Linked DNA regions of Homo sapiens. The protein of the gene in region 1 interacts with the protein of each later gene in a pairwise test. Each region holds a gene or a part of one and is shown in the gene's direction. Other genes may lie near its edges. The genes, in order: PDLIM3, MYOZ2, MYOT and MYPN.

Evidence for each region.
Region 2: the proteins of PDLIM3 (region 1) and MYOZ2 interact in a two-hybrid assay, tested with the Homo sapiens proteins (one large-scale study listed by BioGRID and IntAct).
Region 3: the proteins of PDLIM3 (region 1) and MYOT interact in a two-hybrid assay, tested with the Homo sapiens proteins (one large-scale study listed by BioGRID and IntAct).
Region 4: the proteins of PDLIM3 (region 1) and MYPN interact in a two-hybrid assay, tested with the Homo sapiens proteins (one large-scale study listed by BioGRID and IntAct).

What each region holds. Positions count from the first base shown.
Region 1 is NC_000004.12:185,521,750-185,525,672, reverse strand, and holds part of PDLIM3 (PDZ and LIM domain protein 3), read left to right. Parts: intron 1-501; coding exon 502-653; intron 654-2,226; coding exon 2,227-2,311; intron 2,312-3,923. UniProt on the Homo sapiens protein: May play a role in the organization of actin filament arrays within muscle cells.
Region 2 is NC_000004.12:119,180,712-119,184,634, forward strand, and holds part of MYOZ2 (myozenin-2), read left to right. Parts: intron 1-3,923.
Region 3 is NC_000005.10:137,874,187-137,878,109, forward strand, and holds part of MYOT (myotilin), read left to right. Parts: intron 1-1,642; coding exon 1,643-1,817; intron 1,818-3,333; coding exon 3,334-3,435; intron 3,436-3,923. UniProt on the Homo sapiens protein: Component of a complex of multiple actin cross-linking proteins. Involved in the control of myofibril assembly and stability at the Z lines in muscle cells.
Region 4 is NC_000010.11:68,122,988-68,126,487, forward strand, and holds part of MYPN (myopalladin), read left to right. Parts: intron 1-3,500. UniProt on the Homo sapiens protein: Component of the sarcomere that tethers together nebulin (skeletal muscle) and nebulette (cardiac muscle) to alpha-actinin, at the Z lines.

The sequences.
Region 1 (3,923 bases):
ACATTGTGGTTAGGATTTCAACATTTGAGTTTTGGGGGGAGATAAAAAGTCCATTGCATGCCTCTTACGTGAATTTTAAAGATGATAAATAGTAAGGATTGCTATATTTGGATTGAAAGCAGTTTCAACCTGAATGTAAAAGATGCCTAAATATAGTAAAACTCTATTCCCAAATAGAGACTTCTGGGTGATGAAAAATAAAAAATAATTTTTTAAAACAAAAAAATGTATGATTCACACTGGGAATTATGTAAGATGTTTTAAAAGAGAGTAACAGATACAAGGATATGAAATGTGGTTAGTAAGAAACAAAATCATTCAGCAGGATGAGAAAATAGACCTAACTCAACTGACCAACTAAGAGTTATCTTTAGTTAGATTTACAGTCTTTCTGCCCAATTAAACATTTAAAATGTTACCAGGCTGAAACACAAATGTCAGGCACAAAACTCAAGATACTGCGGGATGTTGGTTTTTAAATAGTGCCATGATTTCTTCCAGATTACACCAGGAAGCAAGGCGGCAGCTGCCAACCTGTGTCCTGGAGATGTCATCCTGGCTATTGACGGCTTTGGGACAGAGTCCATGACTCATGCTGATGCGCAGGACAGGATTAAAGCAGCAGCTCACCAGCTGTGTCTCAAAATTGACAGGTGCTTCTTAACTAATGGTGCTTAAATCTGATCTGTTTTGCAGGAGAACCTGAACCAGAACTATAAATAACTTCATCCTCCCAGCAAGGAGGGCCACAGACCTAGTATTTTGGCTGACTTTTTATATATTAGCTACTTAATTCTTTACTAAAGTCAGTCAATCTAGCAGTTGTTGACAAATCATTTCTAAAAAGGATTCTCTGGAATGTTAGAATAATAAAAGAGGCTAAAAGAATTTGTTCCAGTAATAACCCGGTTAATTAACTATGAAAATAGAACTATTAGCCACATAAACACTGAACAACACAACTAGTTATATCACTGTTCTCAGTGTGGTAGAGAATGGAATGGAATGGAATGGAATGGAGAGATTCCCCTGAAATAATCTCTTGACTTGCCTGACTGTAATTATATTAAAACTGGTTGCTAATATCCTGTCTGCCATTGGCTGTTTTGTACAGAATTCAGCCCAGAAGAATGTTACAGGTGTGAGAGTGCATATGCACGTGGGCATGTGAAATACTGAGATGTTTCTGACCCCACCCCCCAAAAACACTAAGAAATTGAGCCTGATCTCTTGCCATCAGATCCCTGATCCAAAACTGAACCATGATAATAATAATTTGTTATAGTGGTTGTTAGTGTGTGTTTATCCTGTTATGATTGTACTCACAGTTTTCCGTGCTGTGGTACAGAAGGATCAATCAATCCACCAATCTGCCGTTTCCTTGGGGTGAAATAGATTCTTTCACTCTCTATGCATAACCTGTGTTCATGCCGAGCACACAGTCCCTTAGGAGCCACTAGGTCCCAGGCAGATGCATGAGAAGGGTTGGACAAAGCACATTTCCTTGATGCCAGTAACACATCCACCTGGCAGATCACTCACTGTCTTCTGCAGTGGCCTCAGTAGGACTGGAGGGAAGTAGGGAGGTCTAGGGAGCTTGCCTGGTGGTCATCTGCAGAGTGTGCCTGCAGAGTCTCCCTCTCCTGTTTCCCACATGCCTTGCAGGCCTCCTTCCTCCAGAAACTGTGCAGTGTACTCCAGGCAATTTTTATCTAGTCTGCCATACCCAAAAGGACATTAAAAATGTACGACTTCGGCCGGGTGTGGTGGCTCCCGCCTGTAATCCTAGCGCTTTGGGAGGCCGAACTGGGCGGATCACTTGAGGTCCAGAGTTCATGACCAGCCTGGCCAACTGGTGAAACCCCGTCTCTACTAAAAATACAAAAATTAGCCAGGCATGGTGGTGGGCACCTGTAATCCCAGCTACTCGGGAAGCTGAGGGAGGAGAATCGCTTGGACCCAGAAGGAGGAGGTTGCAGTGAGTCAAGATTTTGCCACTGCACTCCAGCCTGGTTGACAGAGGGAGACAACATTAAAAGAAAAAAAAAGGGGGGGGGAAGACTAATTATGTGGGAAAATACAGAATAATCAGCAAAAAAAAAAATTGTTTTTGCATAAGTTAGTGAGGTTTGCTAGTATTTTCACAAACATAATGGGAAACTAAAGTATGCTAAAACTGAAAGTACCATTAGAATTTGAAGTTTACAAATTTTATTTTATTTCCAGGGGAGAAACTCACTTATGGTCTCCACAAGTATCTGAAGATGGGAAAGCCCATCCTTTCAAAATCAACTTAGAATCAGAACCACAGGTATGCGTTTTAGAGCAAATGATACACATTGTATTTCCTTTTAAATCATGGGGATGCCTTCCAAGGGGAGGAAGAGACAAATAGAAAAATTGGAACAAGCCACCTATGAAGCTGTTGTCTGTCATTCCTCTCCGAGATTAATTTATATTATCCGTGTTTTCTTACATCAAGAAAAAGAAGTGTTCCTATGTGAACATCTTGTTGAAAGACAAAATATGCTCCCATCAGAAAGAATTTGGCTAAATCTACAGAGTCCACTTATTATTTTTTCATTTCTTATAATGGACTTCTGTGAAATGACCGTGAGGTAATCTAAGGAGTTTAAGTTGTTAAAACAAAGCAAAGCAAAAATAAGGTCTACCATTTGAAACAGGTGTCTCCAATCTACGGTTACTGTGAATTTCAGTCCTTCGAGGTCTTCACCCAGATCTCATTCTACATTCTTCTTTAATTCTCATTTCTGGGATTCTGTAATTAAATTTACTCTAAGAAAAGAGTGTTGCCTAGTGTGATGATGGTGATATTCTGCCGTTACAGCTGAATTATAAAAGATAAAGGATTTTCTCTGGAGGCAACTGTAATAAACTAAACTAATCATCTGATGCTTATCTATGTCTACTTTCAAAAGGCCCAAAAAACCTGAAATTAAATCAAATCTTGATTGTGATGTACTCATAAATCTAATTAAGAAAAGCATTTTATGACCTCTACATAGAAGCTCTAAAGGTTTAGAGATACAGATACATGAATTTACCATCCCTTTTGAAACACATGTTCCTGCTAAACTGATTAGATATTCCCAGCATGTAGTTGTTCTATATAACTGATGAAAGGGAACTGAAAACGTATTTGTAATTTATGTTTAGCAGTATTTCCCCTTTCAAGAAAATCAACTCCTGAATTTGTCCTTCAAGTTTTCTACTTGTCTCCATAAGCCTCTGATTTCTTTTGTGAAAAGATGTTGAATAACATCAGTACATGTGTCTCCTAGGGCTTCTCAAAAATTAGAATAAAATAATACAAGCAGAGAAGTTGGCACATTGAGTTATTCATAGAAATACTCAAGTAAGTGGTAGCTGTCCTTATTATCAGTACGTTACCCCCACCCCAGGCTGGGATCCGAAAGTCTCCTGGCGTTTCTTGCTGGTGAGATAGTTAGCTGCCTACATGATAGGACATCCTAGAGGCTAGGAATGCCTTCTTCATTGCTATTACGAGGGTCGTGACAAATGGAACAAAGCTTTATTTTCAGTTAAAATATAATCTCTCCTGGAGAAGAAGGATCCTGAGTAATGTAATCTTTAGAGGAAATGAGTTTATTAGATTGTTGTCGTAGAGTTTTGACTAAAGGGAAGGTAGAGTCTGAATCTAAAATCCACTAAAAGCAAAAGTAGGAGAAAATAAGCCCCAAAAGGAGTGAGCAGGACAGAGAATATGTTCATGAAGGCAGGAACCTTGAGGCTGTTGTCTTCCCTCTGAGTCCCTCCAGCTCAATAAATAGCCCACAGCTCAATAAATAGCTGACAAATGGATGAAAGGAACTGGAGGGCCTAAAAATGAGCTGTGCATTTTCTAACATTGCCAGGACCTGTCCTGGGAGCCAGTTCTCAAA
Region 2 (3,923 bases), about 66 Mb from region 1:
CCCAGCTAATTTTTGTATTTTTTTAGTAGAGACGGGGTTTCACCATGTTGGCCAGGCTGGTTTCGAACTGCTGACCTCAGGTGATCTGCTTGCCTCGGCCTCCCAAAGTGCTGGGATTATAGGCATGAGCCATTGTGCCCAGCCTATGACCACATTTTTAAAGTGGCTTTATTCTTATTGCCAGTACTTTTTATATTATGCTACTTGAGTTATTTATCCAAAAGTTATCTGGAATATGTCTTCAAGTAATTCTCTTAGGAAGGGAACACCAATATAAGTCCATGCATATCTATAATACATATATATTTTTTACATTGGTACATGAATAATTACCTGGTCACAGTCTTTTCTCCACAACACCTATTCAATACTCTTTTTTGGTATGTAATGTTTTGGAAAAGATTATGGACAGCCTCATATTCATTCCTTTTATACATTCCTTCTGGCTTCCCTCCCTGTATGGCTCATTATATTAAAAACATTAAAATTCTGACAAGGAATGTCCAGGTAGCATCTTTTTATTTTTTCTTGTTAACTTTGTCTAGTACTTGGTAACTCCTTTTCCTCTATAATCTCTTCTTCCTTCAACTCAGGAGAGTTGTTTTCCATATCTTTGGTTCATGATTGTGATCATAATGCTCTGTTTTCTTCCTCTGGAAGCTTGAATATCCTCATCTGGACTCTAGTTTATTTTACTTTTCATCATATTGTCTGCTCCCTGTGCATTCTGGGAGAGTTATTCTACATAATTTAGTATGCCTTTCTTATGAAAAATAACATAACATTTTATTGTCTTCTCAGTAGATTACAAGTTCTTTGAGAGTAAAAACCATGACTTTCATTTCCACTTACTTGCTTCCAGCATATTCCTGGAAAATAGTGGCTACTCAAAATAGCCATTTGGTTTCCTTAGATGGATAAAATATATGTGATGGAGGCATATCAACTTACTACAAAAACTATGGCATAGTACTGAAGAGGTGGAATTTGGAGGCTATCTTGAGGAGTATATATGTATTAAACATTCTGCAGGCAAGAGCCCAGAATTTAATACATACAGAAAAGAATGAACAACTATAAGTTACATACATGAAAAAAAGAACATAAATTTAGCAAATTTGGAATCTGATTTAATTTATATAAACTGAATTTTAGGAATGTATTATTATAAAACTGTAAATATTGCAGAGTTCAAACAGTACACTGAAGAACAGAGTATCTAGTAAATATTATAAAACACGACTTTATTGTTTTAGAAGTTTGATAGTAAATTTTCAAATCAACATTATAAAATTTCAAATTTTAGGCTTCTGACCTAACCTAATACAGTATTCAGAAGCTTTTGGGATTATTTTCTCCACTGTGCATAATAAAAACTTCTTAAAAGAGGAAAGTGTCAAATTATATTGCAAGTTAAAAGCAACAGAAAACATTTCTCATGCCACTGAAATAATTTTGAAACAAAATGTGACACAGTTCACCTGCAGTTCTCACTGGCTATGGTAACTATTGTCAGCAACAAACATATTTAGCTTCTAGCAAATTGGCTGGATAAAGGATGTAATGCCTGATGCTTGAAGTATAGTTGGCTTTACTCTACTTCCAGCAGTCTGATTGCTTCTTACACAGGCCTTTCTAGTGAATTAAGTCTCCTTCTGCATCCTCAACCTGGATCATGGTACCTCAGGAAGGACAGAGTAGTTATCAGTCACAAAAAGGCAACTTCTAATAAGGAAGTTGCATGACACTGTAATACAATGGTCCCCAACCTTTCTGGCACCAGGGACCAGTTTCGTGGAAGACAATGTTTCCAAGAATGGGGGAAGGGGTGTAGGGGTGGCAGGGTGGGGGGAGATGGTTTCGGGATGAAACTATTCCACTTCAGATCATCAGGCATTAGTTAGATTCTCGTAAGGAGCCTGCAACCTTGATCCCTCACATGCAAAGTTCACAAGAGGGTTTGCACTCCTATGAGAATCTAATGCCCCTGATGACCTGACAGGAGGTGGAGCTCAGGTGGAAATGCTCACTCACCCTCCGCTCACCTTCTGCTGTGTGACCTGGTTCCTAACAGGCCATAGATGGTTGGTCTGCAGCCTGAGGGTTGGGGACCCTTGCTGTAACAGATGCAATGGGAATATACAAATGAAATTGAATATGACTTTCCTTTTTACAGACTAAAATCTGTTTGGGGAGGGAAAAATTTAATTGAAACGAAAGTAATAGAATCAAATTTGTAGCAGACTATACATATTTATGTTTTAATTAATTCTTTAATAAAAAAACACACAGAAATTAAGGTAGTCAAGAAAGATAGCAGAGTGATTGAACTATAAAGAAAATAAGATCTCTTCCAGGTTTTAAATAATCACAATATTAGAGAATCTATATAGTCTTGCCAGGTCCTATGGTACAATGCATTATATAAGTATATTGTAACGAATTACAAAGATACATCAGAGAGAATTCCAATCTTCTTAGAGTACAGTCTGGTAAGAAAAAAGGCAGACATACAAATGGATATAATGAAAGATATAAAATAGGATCGCAGGGGAGGTGAAAATAGAAGTCATGGAAACTTCGGAGTGGAAAGCTTACTTCTGGCTGTGGGAAATTGGGAAAGCTTCAAGAAGAAAGTTAAGTATGAATTAGGGCTTAAAGGGGATTTAGAAACGCAGTTGTAAATATCAGAGTACTCCAAGCAGAGAGAGAAAAAAAAAAGAGTATGATTAGAGGCAGTGAGGTAGGAGAGCATAAATGCAAAGAGCAAGCAGTTAAAGGATGCGTGAAAGTGAATAGGGCAAAACCTGCATGATTGACCTCTCCACTGGGATGTCTAATCGTGTTTTCCACCCACACACCAACTCTGTTCTTTTCTGTCTTCCACCAGCCAGTTGCTAAAACTCTAAAGGTAGGAGTTTTCATTGATTTTTCTATTTTCTTCATGGTTTTAATCCAATTTATCAGCAAATCCTGTTGACTCTACCTGTAAAGCACATCCTGACCCACCCACTTTTTTCCATCTTTACATAAAACACCTGAAATACAAGTCATCATTTCTTGCTTGAGTTACTGCAATAGCTTCCCTCCTTCCACTGTTGTCTTTTTTTTTTTTTTTCCGAGACTGAGTTTCCCTCTTATTGTCCAGGCTGGAGTACAATGGCACGATCTCGGCTCACTGAAACCTCCACCTCCTGGGTTCAAGGGATTCTCCTGCCTCAGCCTCCTGAGTAGCTGGGATTACAGGCATGCGCCACCATGCCCTGCTAATTTTTTGTATTTTTAGTAGAGATGGGTTTCTCCATGTTGGTCAGGCTGGTCTCGAACTCCCGACCTCAGGTGATCCATCCACCTTCTCCTCCCAAAGTGCTGGGATTACAGGTGCGAACCACTGGCACTGTTGTCTTCTTATAATCTGTTCACACAGCAATAGCAGCCAGAATGACCCTTATAAAATGTAATTAGGTTATATAATCTCCTGCTTACCATCCTACAATGGTTGCCCTTCACATTTAGAAGGAAATCCATATTCCTTATTTAGAAAAAGTCCCACACAAGTTTACCTCTCTGTCCCCTGTTCCCTCTGCCCCACCCTCACCTGCTAGCCTAGGAACATAAGCCTTCTTTGTTTCCTTGAACACGCCAACATTATTTCTGCCTTAGGGTTCTTGGCATTAGCTATCCTGTCTACTGGAAGTGCTGATGTACTTTAGCCATACTGTACATGTCTAACTTCTGACCTTCAGATGGCTGTTTAAATGTCGCCTCTTCAGAGAAGTCTTCCCTGGTGATTCTATCTGAAATAACTTTTTAGTAATTCAGTTATTCAATATTATAACACCCTATTTTAACTTTATGCATAGCTGCTATCACCATCAGATATTTTTGTATATGTTTATGTTTAGGGTCTCTTTCACTAGAAT
Region 3 (3,923 bases), on another chromosome or scaffold:
CCGGGTGCGGTGGCTCAAGCCTGTAATCCCAGAACTTTGGGAGGCCCAGGCAGGCAGATTACCAGAGGTCAGCAGTTTGAGACCAGCCTGGCCAACATGGCAAAACCCCGTCTCTACTAAAAATTCAAAAATTAGCTGAGCATGGTGGCGGGTGCCTGTAATCCCAGCTACTTGGGAGGCTGAGACAGGAGAATCACCTGAACCCGGGAGGCAGAGGTTGCAGTGAGCCGAGATCGCGCCACTGCACTCCAGCCTGGGCAACAGAGCGGGACTCCATCTCAAAAAAATAAATAAAAATTAAAAATAAAGATTAGCCCCTGCAGGGCTCTGAATGGATAAACTAGGTAAAAACTGAATAAAGCACTGTGATACATTTAAGCTACCTAACAGATCTAAAAATACAGGACTCTCTAAATACCACCCTATCCTCTATCAGAATCAACAAGGGAAATACGGGAGGGGCAAGGACATCATAGAAAAAATTTAGGATCAAAATTTGAAATAAAGACTTTATTTGCTTTTTTCCAGTTTACATTTCTTTCTCCTTCCTCAAATCATCCCATTTTTTCTCTAAAAATCACTTCAGTAGTATTGAAGAAACTGTCATTACTTTAGAAGTTATTTGCTGTTATATAGTGCCATACTTGGATTTTCTAGAATATGAAATTAATAGGAATTGGAAATTACAGGAAAGTCAATGACTGTGTAGACTCCATTCAAAGCAAAAGATTATTCACTAAAAGCCAGTGGTGTGCTGGTAAATGTCTAACAATCACTGGACAAAAGAGCCATTATTTGTGATATTTACCGATTTCCCTGGTGTAAATATTTCCACCACAACCAATTTCAAACTATAACATGAAATCATAGGAAGCTGGGAAAAGATGCTAAAAATCAGCCCATATGAACCAGCTCCAGAATACCACCACTTAATATCTACCCATAAATCAAACAAGAAATTCGGTCATCGTAGCTATAACAAAGAACAAAATTACGTCCTTTGCAGCAACACGGATGCAGCTTGAGGCCACTATCCTAAGCAAACTAACACAGAAACAGAAAATAAAATAGAGCATGTTCTCATTTATAAGTGGGAGCTAAACATTGGGTACATATGAACACAAAGATGAAAACAATAAACACTGGAGATCCCGAAAGCAGGGAAAGAGGTGGAAAAGGGTTCAAAAACTAACTATCAGGTACTATGTTCACCTCTTGGGTGACAGAATCATTAGAAGGCCAAACCCCAGCATCATACAATATACCCATGTAACAAACATGCACATGTACTCCCAGAATCTAAAAAAAAATTTTATTAAAGAAATTACTCATAAGATTGGAAGAGCTCTCAAGCTGCCACTAACTAGACTTACTCTCACATTCCTTAGGGAATATCTTCAAGGAAGGACATCCTCCTTATGTCTAATCTAAATTCTTCCTCCTGACACTTAATTTCCATTTGCCAAAAGGAAAAAAAAAAGATAGTAACCATTCTTATAAAATATTTCTTGACTGTTATTAGGGCAATTTGTTTTTAATAATACTAGTAGTACTAAGTGGTAAACTCAACATATCTAAAGGTAATTTGCAAAATGAGGCCAAGACCTTCTTTTTAAAAATCTTTTCTTTTTCCTTTTTAAAGCTATCAACAGTCCTCAGCTGGCCAACCTATAAATGCAAAGCCATCCCAAACTGCAAATGCTAAGCCCATACCAAGAACTCCTGATCATGAAATACAAGGATCAAAAGAAGCTTTGATTCAAGATTTGGAAAGAAAGCTGAAATGCAAGGACACCCTTCTTCATAATGGAAATCAAGTGGGCAAGATGTCTATTTTGTACAAAAGGCCAATTAAACTATAAAATCTAATTTTAATAAGGAAGTTCTAGCTCACAGATCTAGGTCCATATATCAACAAGGAATAAGATTATCTAAAAAGAAGGAATATTTGGGCCCTATTCCATTTCTCTCTGCATGAAATCACCTCTTGGTTTACAGTAGTAAAAGAATGAAGCAAATGAAAAATGTATCTGAATGGTTTAATGAAATTTTTCTGTTATTAAATATTACCCTCTCATAAAATATGTCTGATGCCCAAATAGCTATTAGGAATTACTGTCAAGTCAACTTAGTGTACTTTGATGTATAACACTGACAGGTAATTATTGCTATAATTCTTATCATGTAGTCCTTATTGTGTATATTATATTAGTAACTTATCTTTAAACAGTACTATATGCCTTTAATACAAATACATTTAGCCTATCAGTTGGACTGCTCTCAATCAGAAGTTAGTACAATCAAATATTCAGTGCTCATTTAATAAAAGTTACTTCTGGCTGGGTGCAGTGGCTCACGTCTGTAATCCCAGCACTTTGGGAGGCCAAGGCAGGTGGATCACCAAGGTTAGGAGTTCGAGAACAGCCAGACCAATATGGTGAAACTCCATCTCTACTAAAAATAAAAAATTAGCCAGGTGTGGTGGCATGCACCTGTAGTTCCAGCTACTTAGGAGGCTGAGAAAGGAGAATTGCTTGAACCCAGGAGGCGTAGGTCGCCATGAGCCAAGATCGTGCCACTGCACTCCAGCCTGGGCGACAGAGTGAGACTCTGTCTCAAAAATTAATTAATTAAAATTAAATAAAAATTACTTCTGAATGTGAGCACATGAAGTATTATATTCAAAAACAAAGCTGACTGGAACATGCAGAACAACGGAGGAAAGGGTTGAATTTCCCTTTACTTAGGAGATCCTTATTTAAGAGTGATTATGCTTGCCTGTCATAGGAGCAAAAAGAAAGCCTAAGTGAACCTTTACTGCAAGTGAGGGAAATGGTACTAGAATAGAAGGAAAATGCTTTGAATGGAAGAAAAGACTTTAAAAAAAAAAAAATAGAATCAGCCGAGCGCAGTGGCTCACGCCTATAATCCCAGCACTTGGGGAGGCCGAGGCGGGTGGATCACAAGGTCAGGAGATCAAGACCATCCTGGCTGACACAGTGAAACCCCGTCTCTACTAAAAATACAAAAAATTAGCTGGGCATTGTGGCAGGCGCCTGTAGTCCCAGCTACTCAGGAGGCTGAGGCAGGAGAATGGCGTGAACCCAGGAGGCGGAGGTTGCAGTGAGCCGAGATTGTGCCACTGCACTCCAGCCTGGGCGACGGAGTAAGACTCCGTCTCAAAAAAAAAAAAAAAAAAAAAAAATAGAATCTATCATTCAATAGATAGAACTATGCTTCTTTGAAGTTCTGACCTATAGTAGTGGTTTTAAGGTAAACCTGTACAAACATCTTTTATTAAATCTAATTACTGTCTCAATAAATTCTCTAAAGCGTCTAACATATGAAGAGAAGATGGCTCGCAGATTGCTAGGACCACAGAATGCAGCTGCTGTGTTTCAAGCTCAGGATGACAGTGGTGCACAAGACTCGCAGGTAAGTTAAAATGCTCTAAGTGGAGTATTTTTATTCTGTGCGATTTTTAAATGTCTGCTTTTCTAAATGCTTATAAATAGCATCTGAAATAAAAGTCGGTCAGTTCCATCCACCACTGGATACATAAAGAGGCCATGATAAACATATATACATAATTTTACCACATTTTACCCCATTTTCTGGTAGTTCTAATACCTGGATACACAACGTCACAAAATCAAAACACAAGAAGTCTAATGGTATTATTTTTTATCAGGACATTTATGGGTCAGTTAGACCTAGGACTCTCTATGGTGTCTACACGGACAGGGAATATATGGGTTGTGAACCTCCAATAGGACAGAAATTAAGATTATAAATGAAAGTAATTATAACCTTTCTCATAAGCTGTTTAACATTTCAATGTTTTAAAATATACTTGTGGTACTAATGAAACATCCAATTCCTTTTGTTATATTCCTGTTTTCAAAAAATGCTTTCTGAAAACC
Region 4 (3,500 bases), on another chromosome or scaffold:
ATTATTTTTATTATACCAGGGATTTGAAACTCGGCGTGAATTCTACACTGACAGCATATTTCAATTTGGATGTTAAATTTTCCTAGGGAATACAACCTTCATTTTGGCCGGGCGCAGTGGCTCCAGCGTATAATCCCAGCACTTTGGGAGGCCGAGGCAGGCAGATCACTTGAGGTCAGGAGTTCAAGACCAGCCTGGCCAACAGGGCGAAACCCCATCTCTACTAAAAATACAAAAAAATTTAGCCGGGCGTGGTAACAGGCATCTGTAATGCCAACTATTCAGGTGGCTTAGGCAGAGAGAATTTCTTGAACTTGGGAGGCAGAGGTTGTAGTGAGCCGAGATCGCACCACTGCACTCCAGCCTGGGCTACAGAGCGGAGGCTCCATCTCAAAATGAGTAAATTAGGCCTGGCGCAGTGGCTCACGCCTGCAATCCCAGCACTTTGGGAGGCTGAGGCGGGCGGATCACGAGGTCAGGAGATCGAGACCATCCTGGCTAAAAAGGTGAAACCCGGTCTCTACTAAAAATACAAAAAAAAAAAAAAAATTAGCCAAGCATGGTGGCGGGCGCCTGTAGTCCCAGCTACTTGAGAGGCTGAGGCAGGAGACTGGCGTGAACCCGGGAGGCGGAACTTGCTGTAAGCCGAGCTTGCACCACTGCACTCCAGCCTGGGCGACAGAGCGAGACTCCTTCAATAAATAAATAAATAAATAAATAAATAAATAAATAAATAAGTATAATTAAAAATTCAGTTATTTAGTTGCACGAGCCACATTTCAAGTGCCCAGTAACTGCATGTGTCTAATGACTACAGTATTGGACAGCGCAGGGCTACAATTTATAGCCTAAAAAAGGTCTCTATGCAATGAATACCTGCAGTATTTTTTTAAACTTTAAAGAAACCCAAATAATAGCATAAAAACCTATAGAATTGGGCTGAGGCTAAAGTCAATTTAAAGATTCATTATACATGTATTAAATGTATTATACACTTTCCATGTCAGCTTCATGAAAGCTATGACTGATGGATAGAGAGGTTATTCATCTTTTATTTGCCTACCATGGTCAGCTTTTCTGTGAGGCAAATGCAGTGCAAGTTTCAGGACGCCTCACTTGACTAGGCTATACCTAATTTTGCATTCTAAGTTTATTTTACTTTTTAAAGGAGCCCTTCCACATTTATGAGCTTCAGGTCCCACAAAACCTGGAACCAGCGTTAGCCCCTAGGGTAACATGTCCTACTTTTGATTTTATAATGGAATAACATGTGAAAAATGTGGTTGAAGTGGATTACTTTTGTAGAGAATTCCTGGTATTTAGAGTCCTACAAGAGTTACTTTGTGTTTGTAACTACCTGATTATTACTAGAATATGATTTCATTACTATTTAACATTTATTCTCTGTATGTAAATAGGGCATCTGGGCATCATCTTTTTATTCCATAATATTCAATTATAGGACAATAGTAGTATTAATAATAGCATTTTTGTTTATATATAGGCATATTAATTCAAGGGATTCTGGCCCAAAGACATATTCATATATTGATTTTTGCTTTTCAAAGGCGACATAAGGCAATGCCAAATATTATTTCTACAGTGGCAGATACATTTGACTATTAGGTTATCCTGCTGACCTCCTTGAGGGCAGGGATTCTGTTGTTTTTACCTTTGTGTCTTGAGCACTGAGCACAGCTTTGGGCTCATGGTAGCCACTCAGAAATGTTGAATGAGCTAGTGGATAAAGAAACAGGAAAACAAGAAACTCAACTTAGATTTAAATCAGAAGTGAGACCGTTGGCCTAAGATGTAGCAAAGGGTTGGAACTGAAAAACACAGGGCGGTGTCTACTCTTCTGCTCTGAACGTGCCTGATGATACTCCCTGGGACTCTGGTTGGTAATGCTAGTGAGATGTCACTACAGCCCCATGACAGCTACTACTCAGCAGCATCTGGTCAGTCTAAGTAAGCTGGTGAGCACTCCAGTTGTGATATACACAAAACTTAGGTTAGTCCTGTCCAATCCATTAGTTTCTGGACATAGATTGATTAAAACAAAAATTAGACCAGATCATTCAGGTCTCATCCTACTCATTTTTCAACCATGACAATCTCAGATACAAGAATGAATTCAATGCACCACTAAGAAATGTCAATTAGGAAGACATTCCCCACAAAGCAAAGTAATCTGGTGGCCACTCAGAAACCATTTAATCAGCCAACTAAAAATTTGCAAATCTTCAAATTTAAAAGTGAAAGAAATGTACACAGTTTCCATGTAGCAATGCTAATTTTTCCTGGGAAGAATTTCTTTACTGACAGCAATCATGCCTGTATCCTAACCACTGGTTGGATGCTAGGAAATTAGTAGGTATATGCTAAATATTTTCTGAATGAGTTAGTACTTAATTTTATGACTGCAATTAGATTAAGAATAGAATTAGAATTGTCCGAGTAGACTATTAGCTGCCATTTTCCTAAGCACAGAATTTATATAACTCCAATCAGAAAGCAAATATGTATTTATTTAGTTAGTTTTTACTGTGTGTTCGGCACAGTGATCAATGCAATGACAGACACAATATAAATATGCATCCCTGCCTTCAAGGAGCTTGCAATACAGTTAAAGAAATAATCCTAATTTTTATAGTACAAACTTTAAGTAGTGTCAGGTGTCAGAGAAGGAGTGAAGGACTAGAAAAGTCAAAGAAGTCTTCAGAGATGTAGGAGGATTTTACTTGAACTTTGAATAGTGAAAATTTAGGTAGAAAGTTTCTTATTTACTCATTCAACAAATATCAATTGAGTTACTAAAGTGATTCACTGGGAGTACAAAACAATTGTGAGCTAGTGGAGGTCATAAATCTTGTTTTGAAACCAAATCTAAACTCTTCTGAGAGGGTGGCTCACAATCTAATAGCTAGGAATCAGGCAGACAGCAAACAAATCAATCACTGCAGTATTATGTAATAAGGGCTATGACAGGAGTCTGTAGAGGAGGCAGTGGTGGCTTAAAAGAGTATATGAGTTGCTTGGCCTGGAGTGCATGATAAAGGAAGTGTTAACACAGGAGGTAGAGGAGGCCAAGGGTAGAGGGGAAAGCAAGTGCAAAGCTCCCGAGGCAAGTGTTATCAGGGAACCATAAGTACTCATCTATGTCAAGAACATAGGGTAAAGGTAAGAAAGATTAGAGATAAGGTTGAAGAGGTAGGTGGAAGGAATGGGTCCTTTCAGGCCAGGTCACTTCAGCATGTTTATGGAAAGGCACAGACGCTCTAATTATAATAATATTTTTTATATAGCAGAGAGGACACTGACCAAACTGGAAAGGAGAGTAGAGTCAGATGACTTCGAAGAACCTTGAAAGCAAAGCAGAGTAGTTCAGACTTGGTTTCAAAACAAACTGGAAACCATTTAAGGTTATGTATAGGGAAGTAACAAGATGAAAGGGAGGATTTAAGGATAATTAATCTGCAAGAATAAGTCACACCTGGAAA